Regions from separate parts of the Homo sapiens genome. Here all the other regions are linked to region 3. The links come from fine-mapping of genetic effects on gene expression. A gene starts in region 3. Each other region holds a variant in brackets. All regions are shown on one strand. Distances are from middle to middle.

Region 1 (8,006 bases), 46 kb after region 3:
CTGACTGTCCATCTCCCCTGCTGGAGTGTAAGCTCCGTGAGGGTCGAGTCCGTCCTATTCACCAGCGAATCCCCGGCATGGCGGCGATCAGTGCCGGTGGGTCGTGGAGGTGTTTGCTGCAGGCGGGTGGACGTAGGGGTGTGGGACCAGCATGAGGTCTGGGTGGGGATCGGGAGATGCCAGCGTCATGATGGGATGGAAGACGAGCGTGAGGAGGAAGAACGGCAGAAGGCTGAGGCTGGAGGCCGTGGGACCAGCCACAGGTGGTCCCTCCAGGAACACAGCCCTCCAGGAACTCCTGCTGGAGGCTGAGAGCTCACTTCCCAGCTGTTTTCCCAAAGTGCTTTAATTGTATTTCCTTGGCTCTGATTGGCTGCCTCTGGACCAATCCCCGGGGCAGGTGAAGGCGGAGCATCCTGGGAAGGAGCTCGGGGAGGAATGGGGTTGAGTTAACTGAGGTGGGGTTCAGGAAGGAGAAAGTGGCACTCAGTCCCCTGTCTGAAGGCCAAGGGCAGGCCAAGTGGGAGGAGGCAGGAGAAGTGATGTTTGGTTTCACATCAGCAGACCCAGCAGGCAGGAGGGAAGGGAAGATGTTTCCAGAGAAAGAATAGAGCAGTGTGGGGAGCCCACGGTCAGGGAAGGGAAGGTGATAAAGGCCTTGGCCGTGGCTATGTGCTGAGGGGAAGGAGCCTGCAGATAAAGCAGGTGGGTGGGGAGGTCGCAGGAGGTGGGGTCATGGCCCTGGGCTTGGGTACGACAGCCTTTCCCCCTCTGAGACTGCACGCCCAGGGACCTGCCCAGGGTCAGGTGTGAGAGTGACCAGCCTGGACATCCAGGGCTCTTCCCAGTAGGGAATTGAGGCAGGAAGGTGGGAAAGCTGAGGATGGAGGAGAGGCACTTGGACTGCCCCGGTGGGGAGTCTAGCTGGTGTTCTGAAGGCCCAGGCAGAGCTGTGGCCATGGGGCAAAGCCACTGGCACAGGCCAGATCCTAGGTGGATCCTGCTAGGGATGATTGAGATTCCTGTCATTCAGGGGTGTCTGGTCGTGAGCCGTGGAAGCTGACTCTGGCAGGCGGAGGTTAAAGGGGTAGGATGGGGCTGGGCTGGGGAGGAGTGTTGAGGGCGGGGCCGCAGTCACACGGCTTTAGGGTAGCAGGAGAGCTGGACTTGGCAGGGTGCAGAAAGGAGGCTAGGAGCCTGGAACCCCAGCACCAGCTTCGGTCAGGTGTAGAGGCTCAGTATACTGGCGCCGTCGCTACCCCCGCTGACACAGCTGCTATTGCTCCTTGGCAGGAGTGTCTTGGCCACCGTCTGCTCCAATTTGGAGTTCCAGGAAGGGGCCCCTGATGTCCATCCCAAGGCTAGCAGAGGGTTCAGTCCTCCAGGCTGTGTCCTGTGGGGAAGAAGCACTGGGATGTGTTCTTGGGAAGATGGAAAGGACCCCGGATCCCGTTCACAGCCCTTGTGCCTCTTCCTCTCTCCGCTGGAAAGGCCCTGGCTACCGGGGAAGGATGAGGGGGGAGGGTCCTGGGGCTGCTCCCAGCCCTGAGCTCTTTGTTGCTGCCCTTGCAGGTGCTGGGAGCCCTGTTCCTGGCTATCGGCCTCTGGGCCTGGGGTGAGAAGGTAAGGCAGCGGGCGGGCGTGGAGCTGGTATGGGACGAGGTGGTGGGAAGGTCAGCTCCCCACACCTGCCTCTGCTGCCCGGCACAGGGCGTTCTCTCGAACATCTCAGCGCTGACAGATCTGGGAGGCCTTGACCCCGTGTGGCTGTTTGTGGTAGTTGGAGGCGTCATGTCGGTGCTGGGCTTTGCTGGCTGCATTGGGGCCCTCCGGGAGAACACCTTCCTGCTCAAGTTTGTGAGTGCTGCCCTCAAGATCCCCTGGGAACCCCCATCTCCTCCCATCCAGTTCTTGCAATACAGTTGGAGCTTAATGATGGGTAGCTTTATTATTATGCTATAATCGTCATCGTTAGATTCATGTTGTCTATATTTACTAGGATCCTTTCCGTGGTATGGTAAGTGACCGAGACCTGGTGGCCCAAGCATAAAATATTTATTGACTCAAATAAGAAAAGTCCAGGGTTGTGCTGGCTGCCGGTGCATTTTGATCCAGGGGCTGCCACAGTTTCACTTGGCCTGGTTTCTCCCTGTTTCTCGGGCTCCCCCCGTTTGGCTCCATTCCCAGGTGGCAGGAGGCTCAGGAACAGAGCCGGCTTCCCCATGCCCTCCCAGGAACTCCTGCTGGAGGCTGAGAGCTCTCTTCCCAACCGTTTTCCCAAAGTGCTTTAATTGCGTTTCCTTGGCTCTGATTGGCTGCCTCTGGACCAATCCCTGGAGGCCGAGGGAGGCAGTGCTCTGATTGGTGGGCTTTAGGCACTTGCCAGTCCTGTATCTGGGACTGGTGGGTTTGGGGAGGTGTCTCCATCCGAACCTTGGAAACTAAAGGTTTGCATGGAGGATGGTTTTTCAGAGACAGCAGGGTGTGATTACCAGACAAAGGGAATTGGATGGGTAGGTAACAACAGATGCCTATTACCATCATATAACAATACTAAAATAATAGAAGGTGGGGGCTCTGGGCGCCTCTGGGTCTTGGTGGAGGTAGGGATGGAGCCCTTCCCTGTGGCACACCCAAGCCCTGGGAGGTCACCAGAGCCCTGCGTTTCCAACCCCTACTGTCTGTATGCCCAACCCCAGTTCTCCGTGTTCCTCGGTCTCATCTTCTTCCTGGAGCTGGCAACAGGGATCCTGGCCTTTGTCTTCAAGGACTGGATTCGAGACCAGCTCAACCTCTTCATCAACAACAACGTCAAGGCCTACCGGGACGACATTGACCTCCAGAACCTCATTGACTTTGCTCAGGAATACGTGAGTCCAGTGTCCAGCCTGGGACACCTGTAGGAGGCGCCTTCCTGGCAGACGAATGAGGGAGCAAGTTCCCTGTGATGGGACCATCTCCTTACCCACCTGGGCTAGCGGGCCCCAGGAGAGAGACCCAGGAGTGTCCTCGTCCGAGGAGAGCCAGCCCCTGCTGATCCTTATGGGTCCCCATTTGCCTAGTGCCATAGGGCCACGGCCTTGGGAAACAGAGGGCATGGGCTCCACGCTAGCAGCTCCCAGGCCAGGGCCTACGACACACGGGAGAATGGAGGAAATGTGACATAAAATATAGATTTCTACTTCTGCTAAACCTTGGGCCCACGGTATTGGCTGCAGCTATGTTGCTGCTGCCCCTTCACTGGTACAGAGGCTCTCTGTTTGCCATTGTTCCCAACACTCTGTATTTTATTATATCTGTCAGCCCTTATCTCTCATTTATACTATGTTTGGCCTCTGTGTATATTAGAGTTTAGACCCCTGATGGAAGGTCTGCCCTCAAACTTACAAACTTAACCCCAGTGAAGAGCAGCCAGAGAAGAGTTCCTGAAACCCTATCTGCCTCCCACCTGCACCATCTCGCCCACTCACCCCTAACCACAAACACACAGTCACACACTGTCACCCACAGTCACAACCACACCTAGTCACACACTCGCAGGCACACTTGATCACACCTACACCTACACATGGTCCCACAGTCACACATGAGTCACACCCGATCACACCCACACACGGCGACAGGCCCTTGGCACCATTCACCACCAAGAGTCAGCTCTGGATCCAGAGGTGAAGCAGAGCTGGTGCCTGCTTCAAGCAGCTCTCAACCCAGGGCAGAGGCAGACATAGCCAGGCAGTTATGATGCAGTTCATTCATTCATTCAGCACAGGATTGTTAAGGGCCTACCATATGCCGGACCCAGAGCCAGGCCCTGAGGATTCGGCGGGGAAGAAAGCTGGGACCTGTCCTCTCAGGGCTGGCAGTCGGGAAGAGACAGATGGTGAACAAGCAGAACAAACAAATGTGTGCATGTACATACGTGTGTATGCAAAATTGTACATTGTGGTAAGAGTCAAAATGAAGGGTGGAGAATGGGAAGGCCTCTGCGTGGAGAGCTTGAAGCCTCCCAAAGGAGGAGAAGGAAGAGAAGGGAGAGTGTTCTGTAGCAGGAGCAGCTGGCGCTGAGCAGGTGCCAGGAGGCAGGTGGAGGCTGAGCCCTGCCCTGGGACCAGCACATGCAGGGCATGTGGCAGGCCTGACTCCTCCAGCTCTCTGGCTCGGCCACGGGGCCTGCCTGTGTCTGCTGCCGAGCTTGAGCTCCCCCAGCCCTGTGGGCTGCTCTCCAGCCCCTGCGCTGCTGCTCAGTGAGGGCTGTGTGCACCCGTGTGCCCCACAAGACCATGGTTCATGGCAGATCCCAAACTCGCCATTGCTCCTGCCTAGGGGACAGCTTAGGGTGTTCTGGGTGGGGGTGATGGGGTGTGGGATGATGCCAGCCGGCATGGAGGAAATGGGGTGGCACGGCTATGGGGGTGGCAGGATTCCCCTCCTGTCCCTGCACTGAAGAGAGGAGGGCTTTGTAGAACCTCTGGGGCAAGTGTGGGAGGCCTGCTGCAGACATGGGGCCCAGCGGTCTCTGCTGCCACAGGGCTTGGCCCAGCGCCTGCCTCTCAGGTAGTCTGGAGGAAGCCACAGTCATTGAACCAGTATCCTTGTCCCACTCCCTCCCTTTTTCTAGCCTCTCTTGGGTCGGGGAAGGGGGAGCTCAGTGTCCCCTCCCTTGCACCCCTCTGCCTCCACCAGCCTGGAGGTTGGGCCCAGGCCTGTGGGGGTGGGGAGGTGGCCACCCACTTGGCTGTCCCAGCCCTGTCCCAGACAGCCCTGTATTCCTGCAGCCTGGGCTTGTTCCCAAACAGGGTGAGGCTCCTGGGATGGGCCTGGCTCACCTGGGGCTCTCCCCTGCCCCCACAGTGGTCTTGCTGCGGAGCCCGAGGCCCCAATGACTGGAACCTCAATATCTACTTCAACTGCACTGACTTGAACCCCAGCCGGGAGCGCTGCGGGGTGCCCTTCTCCTGCTGCGTCAGGGACCCTGCGGTGAGTGGGGCTGGGGGAGGAGAGGTAAGGGACTTTCCAGTGCACAGACTCTGGAGAAACCTCCCACAGGGCCCCGCTCCGCTCTGCCCTGCTCTGGGGGCGTGGATGCTGGGGGACGTCATTTTACATGGGTGGCACTGAGGCCTGTTGGGGCGCGGCTGCTTTCCCTGTTCAGCAAGACCTGTCTTTTTTATCGTAGTGAGATGGAAACAGCAGGACCCTGGGGCACAGGGATGGGGACTGGCCTGGAGGCCTCCCTGCACCCTATACCTCTACATAAACACAGCCGCAGCCATTGTCTGCTCCTGGCCAGCTTGAAGGTTGGCCAGGCTGTCACTCTCAGTTATGGTTGTATGTGA[C/T]GGGGGTTGCCTGGGTCATTGCCAGCCAGCACCCCACTGGGCCACCGTTGCAGGGTAGCAGGGAGTGGGGACCTCTGTCCCTTTACGACTTTCTTCAGGGCAGAAACCTCTCCTGATGATGTTTCTTCAGTCATAGTCCATCTGGGATGCCAAGGACCAGGTTTCTCCCCATTCTTATAACACACCAGCAGGCAGGATTCCTGAACGGAGGCAGGTCCAGGTTGGCGATTGCAGCCACGCATTCCAGCGTCTGGGAAAGAGGCACGTGGGGCCAGGTGTGGTGGCTCATGGGAGGATCATTTGAGTCCAAGAGTTTGAGACCAGCTGGGGCGGCACAGTGAGACCTCGTGTCTACAAAAAAAAAAAAAAAAATTAGACGGGCATGGTGGTACACTCCTGTGGTCCTAGCTACTTGCGAGGCTGAGGTGGGAGGATCACTTGAGGCCAGGAGGTCGAAGCTGCAGTGAGCTATGATCGTGCCACTGCACTCCAGCCTGGGCAATGGAGTGAGACCCTGTCTCAAAAAAAAAACAAAAGCACATGGGCCTCAGAGAGGCTCACTTAAGACTGGTGGACACGGCAGAATCCACGGGCCCATCTGCGTCCTCTGAGAAGGAAAAGCCACCGCACTGCCCAGGTACCATGGACCCCATGGGATGCGTCCTCACCAAGTCACTAACTGGCCTGTCTCCCCTCAGGAGGATGTCCTCAACACCCAGTGTGGCTACGACGTCCGGCTCAAACTGGTGAGAGGGGTAGGAACCGGGCTGGGGCAGGCAGGCAGGGGTACTGGGTTGGGTATGAGAGTGTCTATAACCTCCTCTGGAAGGCCTCAGGGATTCTTTGGGGAGAGGGTGCTGAGTCCCAGGAACCAGCCAGACACCCAGGCAGCGGAGGGGGAGTAGACCCCTGGGCCTGGGCAGATGTGGGTTTGCTCAGTTCTGCTCTGTGGAGCACCCTTGGGGTGCCCGGCTTTGCCCTAGAGGCCAGAGATTTGGTGCTCATGAGACAGTCGGCTCTGGAGGAGTGGAGGGAGAAAGACGGTAAGCCCTTAGAGAAAGCAATATGAACAGCCATGTGACAGTCTCAGCTGAGAGCTTGGAAGAAAATAAGGGAGGTGATAGGAGAGAAGCTGGGCAGGCAGGAGGGGGCGTGCATCTGTGCTGAGACCCCATGAGAAGGAGCCGGCTTTGTGGAGGGACTGTGGGGAGCAGGTACTGCAGGTTTAGACCCTGGGGTGGGCGTGAGCTTGGCAGGCTGGGAGGGTGGGAGCCGGCCTGAAGGGCAGGTAGGCTGAGCCTGGTGCCTGCGTGTCCCCAGGAGCTGGAGCAGCAGGGCTTCATCCACACCAAAGGCTGCGTGGGCCAGTTTGAGAAGTGGCTGCAGGACAACCTGATTGTGGTGGCGGGAGTCTTCATGGGCATCGCCCTCCTCCAGGTACCCTTGTGGCCCCACGTGCCCCTCCCCTTGCCGGGGCCGCCCTCACTCTCCCCTCACCTGTCCTCTGTCTTACAGATCTTTGGCATCTGCCTGGCCCAGAACCTCGTGAGTGACATCAAGGCAGTGAAAGCCAACTGGTGAGGCCGCCAGAGGCCATGGCCACATGCCTGGCCTACGCAGGCCTCTGGGGGGCCCCCCAGGACCCTCCTACTATACTCCTGACGGGCAAGGCTGCAGGAGATGTTCCTGCTGGGACTGAGCCTTGAGGGGTTCGCCTGAACCGCTGTGCTGTCCACCCACGGAGGAAGTTGCTGTGCCTCCGCCTGGGCCTCTTGTCCCATATGCGTGTGTACACACACATGCAGGCACACGTGTGCACAGGGAGCCACCGTCTCGGCTACATTTGGGGTGGTGGACTCTCCAGGGGACTAGGAAGGGCGCAGCTCAGAGGGTGCAGGCCAAGTGGGGTGGGAGGTGCTGTGTGGAGGGTCCCCCCCGTTCCCTGCCCCCCAGTGCTGGGACGCACCTTTCTGTGCGTAGCTGTATGGGGCGCGTTGCCTGAGCCACTGCCTCACACAGCTTCAGAGCACTCTTTTCTATGAGCTGTAACTTTGAGCCTGCCAGGAACCCACCTCAGCCTCAGTGTCCCAGACTCTGAAATGGGTCCAAGAATTTTCTTTCTCTTGCTTGCCTCTCAGGAGCAAATGGAATGATGACTTTGAAAACCACTGGCTTACGCCCACCATTTCCGAGGTCCTGTCCACGGCGGGGCCTCAGCAGAACTCTCTGACTGGGGCCCCTGGCCCGGCCCCACCCAGCCGACATGTTTTCTTTGGCCTGGGTGGTTTATACCCTGAGCCAACCTTTAAAAATTGGTAGATTTCACATAAAAGTCCAGATCCACAGCTTCTCTTGAAGAATGACCACCTGGCTACGCCGGCTCTTCGGTGGCAACACTACCTGGGACACTGCCTCCCCAGTCACCAAGGGCCCCAGCTGGCCCGTTCTACTCACCTAAGTGCCGCCTGACCCTTGTACACTAGGAGCTGGCCTCCCACCTCTGCAGGGTTATTCCCTGCACCTCGAGGCCGCTGCGGGCCAATCTGGAGTGAAACACGGGGACCTGAAGGATGGAGAGGCTGGACCCCGCTTTGAAGAGGGTGCAGCCTGGGAAGGGCGGCCTTGCTGGGGACTGCGGTGGGAGTAGAGTGCCCAGGAGAGGGTCTGAGG
Region 2 (10,470 bases), 45 kb before region 3:
CTGCCTTGGCCTCCCAAAGTGCTGGGATTATAGGCGTGAGCCACTGTGCCTGGCCTCATAATTTTTAAGACATTATCTGTTTATTTCCTTTTTATTATCACCTTCTTAGATTTTTTTTTTTTTTTTTTTTTTTGAGATAGGGTCTTGCTCTGTCGCCCGGGCTGGAGTGCAGTGACGAAATCTCTGCTCACTGCAACCTCGGCCTCCTGGGCTAAGTCATTATCTGTTGATTTTTTTTTCTTTCTTTCTTTCTTTCTTTCTTTTTTTTTTATTTTGAAATGGAGTCTTGCTCTGTTGCCCAGGCTAGAGTGTAGTGGTGCGATCTTGGCTCACTGCAACATCTGCCTTCCAGGTTCAAGCGATTTTCCTGCCTCAGCCTCTCAAATAGCTGGGGTTACAGGAGCCCGCCACCATGCCCGGCTAATATTTGTATTTTTAGTAGACACAGGGTTTTGCCATGTTAGCCAGGCTGGTCTCAAACTCCAGACCGCGTGATCCACCCGCCTTGGCCTCCCAAAGTGCTGGGATTGCAGGTGTGAGCCACCGAGCCTGGCCTATCTGTTAATTTCTTAAAGTGAAAGATGAGGATTTTATTATCTTACAGCCCATCACGCTTCCCCAGCGCGCATGGTAAGGTTGTAGTCCATCGACCATGGGAACGGGACCCCCTGAGCCACTGGCGTATGATGTTCCTGGGCTCCTTCTAGTACAGCTTTCCTTTCCTGCATGGTCACTGGTTTTGCTTGCTTAGTTTTCTTTTCTTATTTTTTTTTTTTTTTTTTTGAGACGGAGTCTCACTCTGTCGCCCAGGCTGGAGTGCAGTGGCGCCATCTCGGCTCACTGCAAGCTCCGTCTCCCGGGTTCACACCATTCTCCTGCCTCAGCCTCCCTAGTAGCTGGGACTACAGGCGCCCGCCACCATGCCCAGCTAATTTTTTTTTTTTTTTTTTGAGATGGAGTTTCCCTCTTGTCGCCCAGGCTGGAGTGCGATGGTGCGATTTCGGCCCACTGCAACCTCCGCCTCCCAGGTTCAAGCAATTCTCCTGCCTCAGCCTCCCAGGTAGCTGGGATTACAGGCATGTGCCACCACGCCCAGCTAATTTTTTCTGTTTTTAGTAGAGACGGGGTTTCTCCATGTTGGTCAGGCTGGTCTCAAACTCCTGACCTCAGGCGATCCACCCACCTCAGCCTCCCAAAGTGCTGGGATTACAGGCGTGAGCCACCGCGCCTGGCTAATTTTTTGTATTTTTTAATGGAGATAGGGTTTCACCGTGTTAGCCAGGATGGTCTCGATCTCCTGACCTTGTGATCCGCCCACCTCGGCCTCCCAAAGTGCTGGGATTACGGGCGTGAGCCACCGCGCCCGGTTGCTTGCTTAGTTTTCTACATGGTATCATAAGTTCATCCCTTCACCCTAGCCAGAGGTGTAAATCTCATTTCCTGATTCTATAGGATAAGAGTTTGGATAGGGCATAGCAGGAATTGCTCAACTCTGTTCCATGGTGTCTGGGGCCTCAGCTGGGATTATGTAAAAGATTAGCGGTTGGACAGTGGGGACTGGCTAGACATCTTGCTCTCCCTCAACGCACAGGCCTCTTAACGTGGTTAGCTTGGGCTTCCTTATAACATGGCGGCCTCAGGGTAGTTGAACTTCTAACAAAGTATCTCCAGGTTCCTAGAGCAAAGTGGCCCAAGAGGCCCAGGTGTAAGCTGCAGAGCTTCTGAATGCTGCATTTCTGCCACGTTCTGTTGATCAAGCAAGTCACTAAGGCCAGCTCAGATTCAAGAGGAGGAATTAGACTTCCCTTCTCAATAGAAGGAATATCAAATAATTTGTGACACCATTAATCTCCCACACATAGCTCCATTAACTCCAGGATTGTTACCGAAAAGCCCCATAACCTTCTGATTCTGGGTCCTTTGTATGTCACTTGTTTTTCTCTGCAGAGGATTTCAGGGTCTTGTCTTTATCCCTAATACTCTCAAAATGCTTTGGCTTGGGTTTTCTTTTCCTTTCTTTCTAAAATTTGTTCTTGGAATTCTTTCAGTCTGGAAATGTGTTATTCACTTATACAAAATCTATTGTTTGTACTCATTTGATAGTTTCCTTTCCCTGTTTTCCTTCTCTGTTTCTCTTTCTGGGACTTCTATTAATCAGACATTGGACCTCCTGGATTAATCCTCTAATTTCTTATTTTTCTCTCCTAGTTTCCATTTCTCAACTTTATATTCTGATTCCTCCATTAAATTTTTAATTCCTGCATTTTTTTTAAAATCTATAACAGTGGCTGTCAACTAGGGGTGATCTTACCACCACTCTCCCTCCCCCATCAGGAGACATCTGGCCCCTCCCCCATCAGGAGACACCTGGCAATGTCTGGAGACATTTTTGGCTGTTGCAACTTGGGGGTTGCTACTGGCATCTAGTGGGTAGAGGACAGAGGTGTTTAACAGCGAGGAAATATCGGCTTCGTATGTGAGAATTAGATAAAGGGTGGTTGAGGCGTGGCTTTGGATTGGTTGGTTTGCATAGGAGAGGCAGGTCTGAAGGCAAGGCGCTTGCTGTCTCTGGGAATTAGCCAGCCCTAGGAGGGAAGTCTCTCCCTAACCAGCAAGGCCCCAAAGATGTCAAAGCATCATAAAACACAGAAAATAAAAACAAATGGCTGGGCGCAGTGGCTCACGCCTGTAATCCCAGCAATTTGGGAGACCGAGGCGGGCAGATTGCCTGAGGTCAGGAGTTCGAGACCAGCCTGGCCAACATGGTGAAACCCCGTCTCTACTAAAAATACAAAAATTAGCCAGGCGTGGTGGCGCACCCTGTAATCCCAGCTACTCGGGAGGCTGAGGCAGGAGAATCACTTGAACCCAGGGGGTGGAGGTTGCAGTGAGCCAAGATCGCACTACTGCACTCCAGCCTGGGCGACAGGAGTAAAACTCTGTCTCAATAAATAAATTAAAAAAAAAAAAAGACGCCAAAAAAGAATGATTAATACACCAGATTCAAGGGGAGCAGACATAGTCCTCATCTCTTGCAGGAAGGAGTGTCAAAAGATCTGTGGTCATGTTTGTCTGCCATACCACTTAAAGCGGTTCCCTTCTTTCACTCTCATCACGCCCACATCCCCCTCCTCCACAGCAGGGATGCAGTGCACTATTAGGTGGTACTTTGCGTACTCGTCTGTAGTCTGTCTCATTCAGAACCTGCACTGTTTTGCTCACCATTGCCTTCCCATTGCTGGGAGCAGGGTCTGGCAGATAGCGGCTCATGGATACCCAGTAACTATTTACTGAGGGAATGAATGAGCGAATCAGGGTACTCGGCACATATTAGGTGCTCAGGAAACGCCAGCAGCTATTTAAGATTGTCAGCCTTCCTGATGTTCCATGTTTCCCCAGCAGGTCTGTGGGGAGCATGGCGAGATGAATCTGAATTAAAAGAGGGAATGCTGTGCTGGGGCTTCAGGGCGGGGTGCTGACCATGCCCGGGAAGCACGTAGCCAGATCAGAACCAGGATCTCTGACTGTCTAGGGCACACTGGGGGAGGAGGGCCTGCAGCTAGCCAGTGCTGGCCAGGGCAGAGTTCTCCGGAAGAGAGGAACCAGGAATGGGAACTCCAACAATGAGAAGGGCAAGAGACAGACCGTCCTTTTCCTGCAATAATAACTTCTCACATTTATTATGTACTTACTGTGAGCTAGGCACTGTTTAAGCCTCAACACAAACCCCTGGTGTAGGTGCTGTTATTATTCCCATCTTACAGGTGAGGAAGCTGAGGCCCAGAGAGGGTATGTTACTTGCCCAAGGTTATGCTGGATTTGGACCCAGGCTCTCAGGTCCACATACCACATTACACTCTGCTCTATCTCATGGGTGTTCTGGATAAGCCACCTGGGGTTGCAGTGACTCACTGGCTCATCCATTCATTCCTTTCAGAAATACTCACTGAGCCTACACTGGGCTCAGCCCTGTGCTTGGTCCTGGGGTCACAAAGGTGCATCAGACGCAGACCTTGCCCTCACATCTCTTCTGGCCTGGTGGGAGAGGCTCATCTGCAAAGAGATAACAGAGGTTACTCTCAGGTGTATGCAGCATCCTGTGAGGTCACCATGGATGGGCGGAGGAGGCAGTTTCTCCTGTGGGAGCATTGAGGGCGTGTCTGGACAGAAGGGGATCCTGGAGTTGGGTTCTTTTTTTTTTTTTTTTGAGGTGGAGTCTCGCTCTGTCACCCAGGCTGGAGTACAGTGGCATGATCTCGACTCATTGCAACCTCCACCTCCCGGGTTCGAGCGATTCTCCTGCCTCAGTCTCCTGAGTAGCTGGGACTACAGGCATGTGCCACCTCGCCCGGCTAATTTTTGTATTTTTAGTAGAGATGGGGTTTCACCATGTTGGCCAGGCTGCTCTCAAACTCCCGACATCAAGTGATCCACCTGCCTTGGCCTCCCAAAGTGCTGGGATTACAGGCATGAGCCACCGCACCCAGCCTTGGAGCTGGCTTTTAAAAATGAAGAGAGTGCATCAGCCAGCAAGGCGGGGAAGAGCATTCCAAAAAGAGGGACGGGCAGTAGTGAGAGCAGGCAGAGGGAGTCTGTGGGCGTGCGGGAGATGAGGGGTGGGCTGAGATGCAGGGAGTGGTTCGAGGTGAAGCTGGAGTGGTCGAGGGTAGTCTTTGGGAAGCCCTTTTATGGAGTCTGGACTCTAGCAATGGGGAGCCATCGAAGGGTTTTGAGTGAGGGCGGAAAAGATTAGATTATGTGCAGAAGGACTAGTTTGGTTGAGTGGGATGGATTAGAGAGGCTGGAGGAAGGGAGGCCTTGAGGAGGCTGAGGACAGTGTCCCCAGGGAGGGCGGCCAGTATGGGATGGAGAGATGCAGGCTGATTAGAGAGAAACAGAGGAGGCTGCACGGATTGGACGTGGGCGTTCAGGAGAAGGAGGTGTCAGAATGGCGTGGGCAGGTGGGTGGCTCCCCGAGGCTGGAACTCGGGAGGAGGGGTGGGCAGTGTGAGGGAGAGTTCTGGTTTTTGATGCTGTTTCATCATCAGGGCTCGGCTCTGGAAGCCATCCTCTACCCCCACTCCTCCCCAGGGCTGCGTGCTTACTTCAGATGCTCTGGGGCAGGAGGGAAAGGGACATGAAGAGGTGCCCAGGACCAGGTGAGGGTGCTTGGTAGTGTTAACTTTTTTAAAAACACAAAATATAAATCTAGAAAAAGAGAGGGGACCATGTGCAGGTGGCCATCCCTCCGGCCAAGACCAGAGACAGACACTTCGAAATGGGGTTTGGGGCAGGAGCTTGGTGCTGGACAGTGTGGCTACACATACATATTCAACAGGTTACAGGAGGAGCTATGCATATTCATAAAGGAGCTCCTGACACATGCATGTTGAACACACGTGCATGCAACATATGATCCACGCTCACTTGGGGTGGCAACTTAACATGTAAATGTATTACAATTACGCCCTATACATCAAAAGGCCTTTTTGTGACATGGAAGGTGCATGAGTAAGCAATCTCTGAATGAGCTGGAGCCGGTCTGTGGTTGGTGGGCTCTTATCAGGAGAAAGTTACTGAAATCAGTCTCTTGTCCAGTCAAGGCTGTGGTTATGGGCTGGGCGCAGTGGCTCACACCTGTAATCCCAGCACTTTGGGAGGCCGAGGCAGGCAGATCACTTGAGGTCAGGAGTTCAAGACCAGCCTGGCCAACACGGTGAAACCCCGT[C/G]TCCACTAAAAATACAAAAATTAGCCCAGTGTGGTGGTGGGTGCCTGTAATCCCAGCTACTCGGGAGGCTGAGGCAGGAGAATCACTTGAACAATGGAGGCAGAGGTTGCAGTGAGCCGAGATGGCACCACTGCACTCCAGCCTGGGTGACAGAGTGAGACTCTGTCTCAAAACCAAACAAACAAAAAAGGCTGCGGTTATGGCTGGTGGAACAGGGGCTCAGTTCGTCAGCAGCTGTGAACTGGATGAGCTGTAATTGCTTTAATTTGGCTTTTCTCGAGGCCAGTGCTTATTTAGCTGCTAGAGAAAAAGAAAAAAAAAACCCTCATGGCAGTTAGAACAGAGTTTCTTCTGTAGGGCTGCCTGGCTTCACCCTGGCCTGGCATGGCCTCAGGTCCTGTTTATAATTTGGCATCTTATTGCCACGGAATGTCTATTCTTTCAGTCCTGCGAACTCTATTTTAACATTAACGCTGGTCGGTTATTGTGTGTCGCCTGTAAAAGAGAAGGGTATAATGAGGCATGATTGACCTCCCATCCCGCCATGGCTGGAAACTAAGTTTTGAAAGTTTTTCTGGGGTCTCCTGGGCCACAAGTGGGGCCGTTTAGTCAGTGGGAGGCATAGGATTTTATTTTTAGTTTACAGTAGCAAATGTGTTCCTTTGTTTGCTTTCAAGCTTGTTTAATTCATTTTTGGAAAAGTTAACATATTCAATCAGCACAAAAGAGTATACAGTAAAAAACTGGGCACAGTGGCACACGTCTGTAATCCCAGCTACTCAGGAGTTCAAGCCCAGAAGTTCAAGGCCAGCCTGGGCAACATAGTGAAACACTGTCTCAAAAGAAAAAAGTATACAGTAAAAAGCCCTGTCTTACAGAAAGATTATAGAGTAGCACAGTGAACATAGAGCATACAGACAACTTTCTAGACAGACAGCAAGAAACAAAACGTGTGGGGGCCCATCCTGCTCTCCTGCTTTCTGTGGAGTGACACATCAGTTGTCTTTGGGGATTCTTTTTTTTTTGAGACGGAGTCTCACTCTGTCTCCCAGGCTGGAATGCGATGGCGTGATCTCATCTCACTGCAACTTCCGCCTCCCGGATTCAAGCAATTCTCCTGCCTCAGACTCCCGAGTAGCTGGGATTACAGGCACCCACCACCATGCCCGGCTAACGTTTTTTGTATTTTGTTAGAGACAGGGTTTCACCATGTTGGTCGGGCTGGTCTTGAACTCCTGACCTCAGGTGATCCGCCCGCCTCGGCCTCCCGAAGTGCTGGGATTACAGGCGTGAGCCACCACGCCCAGCCTTGTCTTTGGGCATTGAAAGGGCCTTGATGTTTCAGGTCTCTCTGTGACAGTGAATCAAAGTCCCCCTTTTCTCCTTTTCCCTAACAAGGGACGGCTTGCAACATAAGATGATCAAAAAGACTGGCCCAGCAGGGTTTTCTAAGGTCTCTGTCTGGCTATCAATCAACAAGAGGATCCCAGAGTATGCAGCCCTCCCTAGACCCACCTGACTGGGGAACCCTTCTGCTGTGGCGCATCTCAGAGGGCCAGGGTTCCACGGAGCACAGTTTGGGAAAGGCTGCAAAGACAGCCACTAGATGTATCAGCAGGTGAACGAAGGACCCTGCCCACCCATAGTCTCTGGATGGTCCTGGACAAATTATGGTCCCTCTCCAGGGTCTTGATTGTGAAGGATACTATTAGTTTGAACACTTCTAACAGGCAGGTATAGATGGTGCAGTGGTTGAGAGAATGAACTCTGGACTCCAAAAGACCTGTGTTCCAAGCATGGTCTTGTCATTGACTCCCCGTGGCCTCAGGCAAGCCCCTTCGTATCTTGGTGCCTTAGCAGCCACCTCACAGTTGTGGGAATAACACAGCTGCACATCTAGTGCCTTGGAGCATTTCCTGGTGCATGGCAGGTCCTGGATTCAGGTTCAGACATCGTGGTCACCCCTACCCCACCTGGCCTCCCCCTTGGTTCCCCTGACCCTAGAGCATCTGGAAAATGGACAGAGGGTGATAGAGGCCCTGGGGGAGAACTACTAAGCAGCAGTGGTGGGTGGGCTCAGGTCAGACCCAGGCAGATGGGAGTCTGCCAAAAGGAGGGAGGCCTGAGTCCAGGAGCCATTCCCTGACCTCTTCCCTTAGGTCCCTGCGGATGTGATGGCCCAGCTATGGCTGTCCTGCTTCCTCCTTCCTGCCCTCGTGGTGTCTGGTAGGTGTCTCCCCTCCCCAGCCACGCAGCCCTAACCTAGAGACCCTTGGCAGGACCCTCCAGAAAGGAGGGGGATCCCTCATCAGCAAACACCAGCTCCTATGGGCCAGCCCTGTGCTTGGCTAAGCTGGGGAGGCCTGGGGAGGAATCCAGGCCTGGACGGGTGGCCTGGGTGGCCATAAGGACTAGTGTGTGCTCCCAGGGGAGCAGGTAGGGATCGGGTTTTGCAGGGGTGTCCCGATGTTCCAGCACACTGTGTCCCTACAGTGGCAGCCAACGTGGCCCCGAAGTTCCTAGCCAACATGACGTCAGTGATCCTGCCTGAGGACCTGCCTGTGGGTGAGTCCCGGTCCCTGTGTCTGCCCCATGTCAGGTCCTGACCCACAGGAAAGTCCTGGGGTGCCCTCTGGAGCCCCCACCATGCCTGCAACTCCATGGCTTATTGTGGGACAAAGAGGGACTGAAGGGAGCTCCTTTGATTCCAGAAGTTTGTTTTCTTCTCTTCAGCTTCTGGGTCAAGAGCAGTGTCCTCAAAGGTGTGAGACGCACCTCCAGGGGCCCTCACACCAGCGCCAAATCATCCGGCCTCCCCCATTGCCCATCGCTTTCAGTCTCTGACTGGAGGATCCCCTTGGGCCACGCTTCCTCCTCCTTCCTCACACTGGCTAATCTCTCCCACTCCCACGCTGGCTTTTTTTTTTTTTAAAGGGAGAGCAGGTGTCAGGCTCAGACCCTTTCACAGAAGCTAATGACTCACTTTGCTTTGTTTTTATTTGTAAAGTTACTTTCTGTCTATGGCAGGTGAGATGGGTTTTGAGATGTAAAGTTTGCTTTTAAAGTAAATGTCTTTACATGAGATGGAAAGTCAATTTAAGGAATGAGCACCAGGAACAGAACACAGACATAGCAATGGTCACGGCAAAAGTCACAGCAAAGGTCATGGCAGCGGTGCAGGAACGAATGAAGTTTGGGAAACATTATTTTGGAAGGAGCCAGGGGGCCTAGATACCACATTCCCAGAAGGCAGGATATAGATCGGGGAAGTAGAAACCATAGGTGGCCGGGTTGGTTGGGACCCCAAATAACAGAGATGCAAACAAGGCGGAGGTGAATTACCGCCCCTCGTGGCCGCCCAGGAGCCCGGACGGAGCTGTGGGGGCATGTCCCATCAGGCTGCCCTCCCTGCAGGGCTTGAGGGGGCGGGGGTCACGCAGCCTTCTTCCCGCTCAGTGGCCCGACTTCCCTAAGGCACAGGTCCCACCCACATGGGCCAGGATGGCTCAGACGAGAAACCATTCCAGTCACAGAAGGAGGAAGGGGACAAGAGGGCTTCTTCCTTTCTGGATTTTACACACATTGCTTCTGCTTTTGTCTCTTTGGCCAAAACTAAGCCACAGACCCACGCCTAGCTGCAAGGGAACCTGGCAAATGTGGCCTTCATTCTGGTTGGCCGTGTGCCTAGCTCAAAATCTGGGGCTCCATTGTTCTCAGAAAAGGGGGACAAGTGGATATTGGGGGACAAGCCACAGCCTTTGTTGCAGTGCAAAATGGAATCCAGGAATGTCGAAAGCTGCCAGATGAAACAAGAGACACCAAGGGGTATTGACAAATACAAAACCTGTGCAAGCAATCCCCTGATCAAGAGAAAGTATTTCCATCACCCCAGAAAGTTCCCTGTGTCCAGTTCTAGTCAATCTCTGCTCCCTAAAGGCAAGTGCTATTCTCATGTCTATCCCATGGAGGCTGGAGAGGGAGGAGTGCACAGGACTTTTTTTTTTTTTTGAGACAGGGTCTGGCTCTGTCCCCCAGGCTGGAGTGTAGTGGTGCGATCATGCTCACTTCAGCCTCGACCTCCTGGGCTCAACTGATCCTCCCACCTCAGCCTCCCAGGTGGCTGGGACTACAGGCATGTGCCACCATGCCTAGCTAATATTTTATTTTTTAAAGTAGAGACAGGGTTTTGCTACATTGCTGAGGCTGGTCTCAAACTCCTGGGCTCAAGCAGTTCTCCCATCTCGGCTTCCCAAAGTGCTGGGATTACAGGCATGAGCCACTGTGCACCACTACACCTGGCTAATTTTTTATTTTTATATTTATTTATTTTTGAGATGGAGTCTCGCTCTGTCACCCAGGCTGGAGTGCAGTGGTGCGATCTCAGCTCACTGCAACCTTCACCTCCCGGGTTCAAGCAATTCTCCTGCCTCAGCCTCCCCAGTAGCTGGGATTATAGGCACGTGCCACCAGGCCTGGTTAATTTTTTGTATTTTTAGTAGAGACGGGGTTTCACCATGTCGGCCAAGCTGGTTTCGAGCTCCTGATCTCAAGTGATCCGCCCACCTCCACCTCTCAAAGTGCTGGGATTACAGGCATGAGCCACCTCGCCTGGCCTAATTTTTAAATTTTTTTGTATAGATGGGGGTCTCGCTATGTGCCTAGGCAGCTCTCAAATTCCTAGGCTCAAGCCATCCCCCATCTCAGCCTCCCGGAGTGCGGGGATTACAGATGTAAACCACCAT
Region 3 (9,115 bases):
TTTTTTTTTCCAATGGACAATAAAGAGAAACCTTTAATGACTCACTCTTACCTTTGGGGTAAAGTCCAGCTCTTTAATATGCTCCTAAGCCCCTATGTTTCTACTTAAGTGCTGGGATTTATCTTTCATTACCCACTCCCACCCCCAAAACATGTACACACACAGATACACACTCTCTCTCTCCCCCACCATCTCAGCCTCTACACACCCTCTTCTGGAGGAATCTCTCCCTCCCTTCTTGCCTGGCTGTCTCTTATTACACCTTCAGATCTCCGTTAAAACACCTCCTCCTCTAGTGGGCCTTGTTTGGCTACCAGCTTCCTGGGGATTCCTGTAGCCTCTCGTTCCTCCTCTAACAAGGCTCATGTCACTCTGCATCTGGCCATTTACACCTCTGGGTCCCTGGCCAGACCTCAGGTCTCTGGATGGGGACACAGTCGATACTGTTCACTACTGGGTCCCTCAGGCTCTGGCTTATGAGGTGGGGGAGGGGGACCATCACTAAGAGGGAACACAGGAAGAGGAACAGTTTTGCAGAGGATCATGGGGCACTGGGTTTCGGAAGTGGAACTGGAGTGCCCATGGGACTTATGGGGGGTGACATCCAGGAGGCAGTAGGAAGCAGGCCAGAAGCACGGGAGAGGTCTGGTTGGAATTCGTGGGATCACTGGATGGTCACCAGCCTGCAGGGGTCAGGCAGGCATCAGATTTGAGTGGCGTGAATTGAGTCCATCTTCATCTTTGGCCTTTTGATAGTGATATGGGCACAAATATTTGTTTTCTCCTACAAGGGAGATGATGAAAGACTCCTGACATCCCCAGACTGAGGGAGACAAGAGGGAGTGGTGGGGACTGTGGCAAACTAGAGGGCACTGGCCCCTTCTAAAGGGGCAACGGCACTCAATTCCTGCCAGCTGTGGCCAATTAGGAATCATTCCATTAACTCAGCATTTACTGAGCACACAGGCAATGTTCTAGGCATTATTCTTGGGACTGGGGATACAGCAGTGAATAAGAAATGTGGGGTCCCTGCCTTATAGATGCAGAAAGATTGGGAGGAGAGAAATAAACAAGTGGCAAATAAATCATAGTATTTCAAATAATGGATGCTGTGAAGACAAAGGAGTGGGCAGCTGGTTTAGACATGTGGTCAAGAAAGGCCCCTCTGAGGCAGTTACCATCTGAGCCAGCCATGAAGAGCTGGAGTGGAGTCGGAAAGGGGGTGGCAGCGGAAGAGGAGGCAGCAAATCACATGAGGCATGGTGGAGGAGGGGGGTTTAGCCTAAGGGCACTGGAAACCCTGGAAGTATTTTCTTTTTATTTGAGACAATGTCTCACTCTGTTGCCCAGGCTGGAGTGCAGTGGCGCGATCTCGGCTCACTGCAGCCTTGACCTCCTGGGCTCAAGTGATCCTCCCACCCCAGCCTCTCAATGTAATAGGATTATACCTTGATCTCTTGAGGCCAAGAGTTCCAGACCAGCATGGGCAACATAGCAGGATCTCGTGTCTACAATAGGATTATACCTAGCGCCTAGTGAGCCACTGTATCCCGCCCCTTGGAAGTATTTAAGCAGGGAAGTGAATGTGGCCGCTGTGCCTCCAGGTTTCCTAAATTTTTTTTTAGCTAAGTCATAAATCTGGATATCTGTATTTTATTTATTTATTTATTGAGACAGAGTTTTGCTCTTGTTGTCCAGGCTGGAGTGCAATGGTGCTATCTTGGCTCATTGCAACCTCTGCCTCCCAGGTTCAAGTGATTCTCCTGCCTCAGCCTCCCAAGTAGCTGGGATTACAGGCATGCGCCACCATGCCCAGCTAATTTTGTATTTTTAGTAGGGACAGGGTTTCTCCATGTTGGTCAGGCTGGTCTCGAACTCCTGACCTCAGGTGATTTGCCTACCTTGGCCTCCCAAAGTGCTGGGATTACAGACATGAGCTACCGCGCCCAGCATGGATATCCATGTTTTAAATATTGGCTAATTTAAAAAATATCATACAGGCTAAACAAAACACTTTTTTTTTTTTTTTTTGAGACAGAGTCTTACTCTGTCACCCAGGCTGGAGTGCAGTGGTACAATCTCAGCTCACTGCAACCTCTGCCTCCCGGGTTCAAGCAATTCTCGTACCTCAGCCACCCGAGTAGCTGGGGCTACAGGCGCACATCACCATGCCCAGCTAATTTTTTAAATTTTTACTAGAGACAGAGTTTCACCGTGTTGGCCAGGGTGGTCTCGAACTTCTGGCCTCAAGTGACTGGCTGCCTTGGCCTCCCAAAGTGCTGCGATTACAGGCATGGTCCACCATGCCCGGCCAAAACACTTTCATGAGCCAACTTTGACCCCTAGGTCACCAGCTTGCAACCTCTGATCCATCTGGCCCTTGGCCTATGGAAAAGGACGTTATAAGCCAGGGTGACCGGGAAGATGGTCAAGGGAAAGGGCCCTGGGGCGGAGTTCCGCGGCTGTAATCCCAGTGCTTTGGGAAGTCAAGGTGGGATGACTGCTTGAGGCCAGGAGTTCCAGATCAGCATGGGCAACACGGCAAGATCCCGTCTCTACAAAAACTTTAAATTAAAATTAAAAAAAAAAAAGAAATTAGCCAGGTGTGGTGGCATGTACTTATAGTCCTGCCTGCTCCAGAGGCTGAGGCAGGAGGATCTCTTGAGTCCAGGAGTTTGAGGCTGCAGTGAGCTATGATCAGCCTGGGTAACAGAACAAGAAACTGTCTTTAAAACAGAGACAGGGAGAGAGAGAAAGGGCCCAGGCTCCAGTGAGGGCCAGGATCTGCCTACCATGCCTGCCTGTTTCCTTCTCTGGAAAACAGGAATTCAACAGCTGCCTGGCTGGTGTACAGGGAGTTTAGCTGGAGCTGGAAGGAGTCAGCAAAGGATATAGGAAGGGTGCTCTGGGCCCTCACTACCCCTCATTTCAGCCCTGGAAGCCCAGCCCTGGGGTCCTCACACACCAGCCCAGCCAATAAGCTCCTCTCCCTGGGTGCAGCCCGGGCAGAAAGTCAGGCCAGCCCACCGCTTATCAGCTCTGTGACTTCAAGCAACGCCCTTCTCCTCCTTGGGGACCCTGAAGAACCCACCTCCTGCTCCCCCAGGGCTATAGTGAGAATTAAAGAAAATGAGGGGTGTGCCTGACTCTGCTCACTTTAGGGCTGGGCTGTGTCTGTGGAAGGCCTGTTTTTATCTGCTCAGCCTGTCAGAGCCCAGCTGTGCTCCCAGGAGGGGGCAGGGGAGGAAAGGGTCTGCAGCAGGGACACAAACCAGCAAAACCTGACCCTCAGACAGGCTTGTTTGACCCACAGAGCTAAACACATTTTAAAATCAGTTTTAAAAAGGAATTAACCGATCAACTTCTAAACATTAGAAGATTTCATGTGACAGTAAGATTTCCAGCTTCTCTTGGAAAACTAAAATTTGGCAGTCTGAGCGTGCTTCCTGCCTGGCAACATTCAGCTGGAGCCCCAAAGGGACAGCCTCCTTAGATGGGGGTGTACTCTCCAATCAGCCACAATCCCCCCTCTTCCCCACGGTGTCCTAGACACTGAGGCTGACTGTCTGCTGCCATCAATCATGGAATTCTCACTGTCGTTTTTCTCACAGCCGGCCCTTCATGTATGTTACCCTCCTGGCCTGTAGCCACCTGAGTGTGGACCCTGGAGCACAATGCCATGAAAGGCAGAGGTGACCTTGTACAAGTCGAGCCCTTACTATGTGCAAATCCCACCCGCCTGCCAGGCAGCTGTTGTAGTCCTGTTTTCCAGAGGAAGAAACAGGTTCTAAGAGGCAAGCTTGGCTCAGCTGATAACATGCCCCTTCTGAAAGTCCCCAGGCTTCCCGTCCCCAACTTGTATTTTCCAGCCTCTGAGATGGGATAAAGTCCAGGGTAGGGACAGAGAGCCTGGTCAGGGAGGTAGAAAGATGTGGGGTCAAGCCCCAGCTTAGTCATTGACATCCTCTATGACTCTGAGTGAGTTTTTCTACTCCGTGGGTCTCAGTTTTCCAATCTGTGAAATGGGAGAGGGGATGTAGTTACATCTGGAAGAGATAGGCCAGCCCTGGGTTTCAGAACTGCCCCAAGACCACTCCCAGAGGCTCTACTGCTCACAGTTCTGCTGGGCCCTTCCTGGATCTTGGGGAGGCCTGAGGATCCTCGAGCTGCTTCTCTGAGAGGCAGCCCAGGCCTGAGGCCCCACATTCTCTCCCCGCAACTACCCCACTAGAACCCAGCTCCATTACCTGGGCCCAGCACGCTCACTGTCTTTCTTTTTTTGAGACCGAGTCTTGTTTTGTTGCCTAGGCCGGAGTGCAGTGGCATGATCTCGGCTCACTGCAATCTCCACCTTCCAGGTTCAAGTGATTCTCCTGCCTCAGCCTCCCGAGTAGCTGGGATTACAGGCATGTGCCACGACACCTGGCTAATTTTTGTATTTTTTGTAGAGACAGGGTTTCACCATGTTGTTTAGGCTGGTCTTGAACTCCTGGCCTCAAGTGATCCACCCACCTCGGCCTCTCAAAGTGTTGGGATTACAGGCATGAGCCACTGCACCCGGTCTCAGTCTCTTTTTATCATCTGGATCCCACAACAATCTCATGAGGGGGGCATTATCATCCCATTTCACAGATGAGGCCACTGAAGTCAGAGGGAGAAGACTTGACCAAGGGCACACAACTGGGGCACACAACTGGGGCACACAACTTGGTCAAGACTTGACCAAGGGCACACAACTGAGGGAAGGCTGTAGCTCAAAGCCAGTTGTGCCCAAGCACAAAACCTGAGTTCTTTCTAAGATCGTGGACACTGACACTTGGCTCTTTTTTTTTTTTTTTTTTTTTTTTTTTTTTTTTTTTTCTGAAGACAGGGTCTCACTCTGTTACCCAGGCTAGAGTGCAGTGACACAATCATACCTCCCTGTAGCCTCCAACTCCTCAGCTCAAGCAATCTTCCCTCATCAGACTCCTAAGTAGCTATAGGCATGCGCCATCACACCCAGCTAATCTTTAAATTTTTGTAGAGATGGGGGTCTTGGTATGTTGCCCAAGCTTGTCTCAAATTCCTGGCCTCAAGCAATCCTCCTGCCTGGGCTTCTCAAAGTATTGGGATTACAGGTATGAGCCACTGCACCTGGCCTGACACTTGGTTCTCAAAACCCCCTTTCTGGTTTTTGAGGTCAGGCCAAGGTTCCTCCCAAGCAACAGTGCCAAGGAGCATGCAGTAGAAGAAGCAAGAGCTCCCCTCCCCCTGCATACATTCCCCCACCTGTGGGAACGCACACACCCTATGAGCAGATGAGCCTGTACACTTGGGCACAAACAGGTTGAGTGTGGCCTGACTGAGGCAGAAGGCAGAAATGTCTGCTAGGTATGTAGGCGGGCTCACCTGGCATGCAAAGGAGTGAACAGACTGCTTGTGGATGTATGTACCAGCTTGGGCCACTCTGGGGCCAGGACCTGGCTCCTGTGTTCTGCTCAAGAAGAGCTTGTTGTGCGTATGTACACCCTGCATGTGCAGAATGGCCTGTGTGTTTGTGCCTCGTGGGGGCTACTTGGACCCTGTGGGTATCTCACTCCTAGGAGAGCTTATCTGGGTGTTGCACAGGTGCCTGTGTCCTGCTCCCAGGGAGAGCAGCAGCCCCTGTGGCTGCCCATTCAGGCCACAGAGACCTGGCCAGCCATTCCTTTCCCTCTAGGATTTCTTTCCAGCATGGAGCTATCCTTACACCCATAAACAGGGCCAGAACTGCCAAGCACCTGCAAATACCTCTTCTGTGCTGACAAGACCAACAAAGGCTTGAGGGACTTCGTCAGGCATCTGAGTGTGTCTGAGAATCTCAGTCTGCTGCCCCTCGTCCCCTTCTCTCGTAGTGCCCTCAGAGCAGCGAAGTCTCCTGCTCGGGGGTGTGGGGGGAGAAGGAATCTAAAGGTGTTAGCCAGACCTGCTTCCAGAAACGGCCCTCAGACCATGCATACATACATACATAGGAGGGCAAGAATGGACGTTCATGGACGTGCAAACGTGGGCCAGTGTGGGTGGGAGTGGGCAGCACGCTAAGAGACAGAGTGTGTGTGTAAGAGGGAGTGTGTGCACAAGGGTGGCAGTCTACTCCAGGGTATCTGGGTACGCAAGGGACCCCATGAGCAGGGGTGAGCAGGCCAGGGCAGGGTGGCCCCGAGTGTGTTGTGATCAGGGAGTATTGTTGAGTTGATGTCCATGCTGTGATCCGCGATGGCTGGTTTGAGTGCGTAGCTGTGCCTGGGTGTGTACGCAAGGCTCCCACCCAGTACCCTGGGTGACAGGTGGCCGTGTGTATGAGTCTAATGGAATGACCAACAGCCATTGTGTGTGTGCGGTAGACCTGTGGCCTCACTCGAGGAAATGAGGCGCCCGTGCGTGAACGCGGTGTTGTGTGATCGCGCCCCGGAGTGTGTGCCACACTGGTTGTGTGACGGCGAGTGTGCTCAGTAGTGCGAGTGGAGCCAGTGGAGCGTTGAGCTCGCTCCGGGGAAGATGAATCAACGCGGGAGGACGCCCTCCCCCCAGTGGCGGGAAGCACCCCCTCCCGCGCGGCCATGCCGAACAAAGCCAGCGGGCGGCGGCAAGGCCGGGCGCGGGGCCGACCCCACAGCCAGGTCAGCCTGGCCCGCCGGGCCCCTCTGATGTTCGGCCCAGGGCTGCGGGACCCGCCCCCGCCCCGCCCCGCCCCGCCCCGCCCCGGCGAGGAGCCTGGAAACAGACACCCACCGCCCCCAGCCGCGCGCACACACCCGGGCTCATGCCGCGCGAGGTGTCCGAGCCCCGCCGCCGGGGGGCTTCGAGGACCCTGGACAGCGGCTCCGGGGCGGCAGCGAGCGGATGAAGGGGCTGCCGCCGCCCGCCCGGAAAGACAGCGGGTGTGGGCGCGGCGCTTACCAGGCAGTGCCGCTGCTCCGGCTCCTGGGCGAGATGCGCTCCGGCTCCCGCCGCCGCCGCCGCCGCCGCCCGAGCGGCCTCGGCTGCCTCCGGCCGGGCTGGCGGGAGGACCCGCAGACTCGGCGCCGCCGTCCCCAGCGCCGGCTCCGCGCTCCCGCCCCGCGCCCCGCCCCGGGCATGCGCAGTAGCCGCCCGGCCGCCTCGGAACCGCGAGGGGGCGGTGACCGCGGGGAAACCGCGGCCGGAGGGAGCGAGGGAGGGGCGCCCCTCGCTGGCCAACCCTAACTGCGGCCGCTGGGCTCCCGGGTTCCGCGCCGTCCTCGAGCGGGTTCCCACTTCACAGACAGGGAGACTGAGGGCCGGAGAGGCTGCCCCTTTGCTGCGAGCTTGCTGAGGGCGGGGCGCGCCGTCTAGCAGATCTTAGACCAGCCCCTCGAAAGCCCTCGCCTGGCTTGACCAAGGAGGGAACTGGGGCTCAGAGGGGGCAGTCGCCGGCCTGAGGACTCGAGGCGCCTGGATGGGGACCCAGGTCGGCGCGATCTCCCGGCTCCGCCAGCGAGGAAATTTCCCGCCTCCGCCCCCCCCACCCCCGGCCGCACTTCCGGCCTCCTCTTCCCCGCCCCCGGCCCTTTGTCTCGCCGCTGCCCACGCTCCAGCGAGTGGCGGGGACGCCGGAGGTAGTGGTGCGGGAGAGATGCCTTCCAGTCCCTGGCTGCGGCCTCCCCGGGGGCCCGCCCGCCCTCCCCCCTCCCCCTGGATACCCTCGAGCAAATCATTTCACCTCTCTGCACTTCAGTTTCTCGATCTGTAAAACGGGACTAACATTATGCACCTCACGGTGGTCTTGGAAGGGCAAAGTAGGTGTTCAGGGGTTTCCAGTGGTATCTGAATCACCAAGGACACAGAGACTCGCTGCCCACCCCCTCCACATTTCCCTGCAGAGAAGGAGTTCCCTTCCCCTTGACTTCCCAGAGGAGAAAAAATAATTCCGTAATTGCTCTAGATGTGACAAAACCCTCTCGCACCGGTACTATGAAGCCACCACCATCTATTAATCAATGGTAACAACCATTGGCAATGATGCTTATGTAGGGCCAGACACGGCGCTAAGATTCTGTTTACAGGTTTTATCTAATTTCAATTTCCAATCGCTTAGGAGCAAGTTAATATTAATGTATTATATCTCCATTTTTCAGATAAGAAAAGAGAAGCAGATAAGTAACTTGTTTGTGGTCACACATCTAGTTAGTAGTGGAGCTGGGATTACAAACCCATGCAGTCTAACTTTGAAACCTCACTTCTTATTCTTACATTTTACTCCCCTCTCTTACTTGGTGAACCGTAAGTCACCGTGATCCTTTAAAATATATATATATATATATATATATATATATATATATATATATATATATATATATATATATTTAAAATTCTAGGTGATAAATGAAGAAAATCCGTGGGACTGGCGTCTCCAGGCAGCACGCCAGGCAAGGAGAAAACCTCAGCGTGTCGGACCGGTTTCAGAACCACGGACAGCACCACACCAGGGCTGCTTCCTCACATTTCCGGTCCTGAAAATTGCTCATTCACTGCCCACAAGGCCATTTCGCTTCAGAGCTTACAAACCCTTATTCCACATTCATCATTTCATTTTTTTCTCCCTACAGCCCTTCAAAGTAAACATTACTGGCTCCATGACACAGATGAAATTAAGGCTTGGAGAAGTTCACAGATGTGAAAAGTGGCAAGAACCAACCTGTGATCGAAAAAGGTCCCCCTGGGACAGGACAAGGGTGGACAGGAGCAGAGACTAGGCAGGAGTGAGGAGGCTATGGCAGGTGTTCAGGTGAGCGATGATGATGCCTGAACCACGGCGGCATTTGTAGGGATGGAGAGGAAGAGTCAGATTGGATACCTATCTAGGGGTAAAATCAATAGGCCTTGACCATGAGGTGGATGTGGGTGGAGGGGAGAGAGAACTCTGCTGTCTCTCTGAGATTCTGCCTTGGGGAGCCAGGTGGATGAAGGACAGATAATTTATGAGCTCTGGGGGGAAAGAGGGGTTTATAGGATGGCCGTGCTGATACATTTGAGTCCAGAACTGAGTTCTGCCGTGGCCAAAGCTGAAGGCAGACAAGGGAGCCCATCCACCTCCAGCTGGTGCCGGAGGTCATGGGAGGGGTGTCGGCACATGGGA

What was found. PIP is the estimated chance that this variant, and not a neighbour inherited with it, causes the effect.
Region 1: its variant is the best candidate, but not a certain one, in a credible set for the expression of GPRIN1 in sun-exposed skin (GTEx, PIP 0.57).
Region 2: its variant is the best candidate, but not a certain one, in a credible set for the expression of GPRIN1 in lung (TOPMed, PIP 0.61).

What each region holds. Positions count from the first base shown.
Region 1 is chr5:176,650,044-176,658,049 of GRCh38, forward strand. It overlaps TSPAN17 (tetraspanin 17), which reads left to right. Exons shown (of 9, transcript NM_130465.5): 2 at 1,573-1,623; 3 at 1,711-1,857; 4 at 2,700-2,870; 5 at 4,852-4,977; 6 at 6,035-6,082; 7 at 6,657-6,773; 8 at 6,852-6,913; 9 at 7,475-8,006. The coding sequence ends at 7,655. Among named protein-coding and RNA genes, the nearest start is that of TSPAN17, 6.6 kb to the left of the region's middle. RefSeq lists an enhancer at 1-1,486. The variant C/T (reference allele first, on the strand shown) is at 5,337.
Region 2 is chr5:176,557,451-176,567,920 of GRCh38, forward strand. CDHR2 (cadherin related family member 2) reads left to right here. Exons shown (of 32, transcript NM_017675.6): 2 at 7,888-7,954; 3 at 8,222-8,293. The coding sequence starts at 7,903. Among named protein-coding and RNA genes, the nearest start is that of CDHR2, 13 kb to the left of the region's middle. RefSeq lists an enhancer at 8,666-9,631. The variant C/G (reference allele first, on the strand shown) is at 5,729.
Region 3 is chr5:176,603,081-176,612,195 of GRCh38, forward strand. It overlaps GPRIN1 (G protein regulated inducer of neurite outgrowth 1), which reads right to left and starts at 7,076. Exons shown (of 2, transcript NM_052899.3): 1 at 6,919-7,076. RefSeq lists silencers at 6,657-6,716, 6,777-7,406, 8,308-8,602.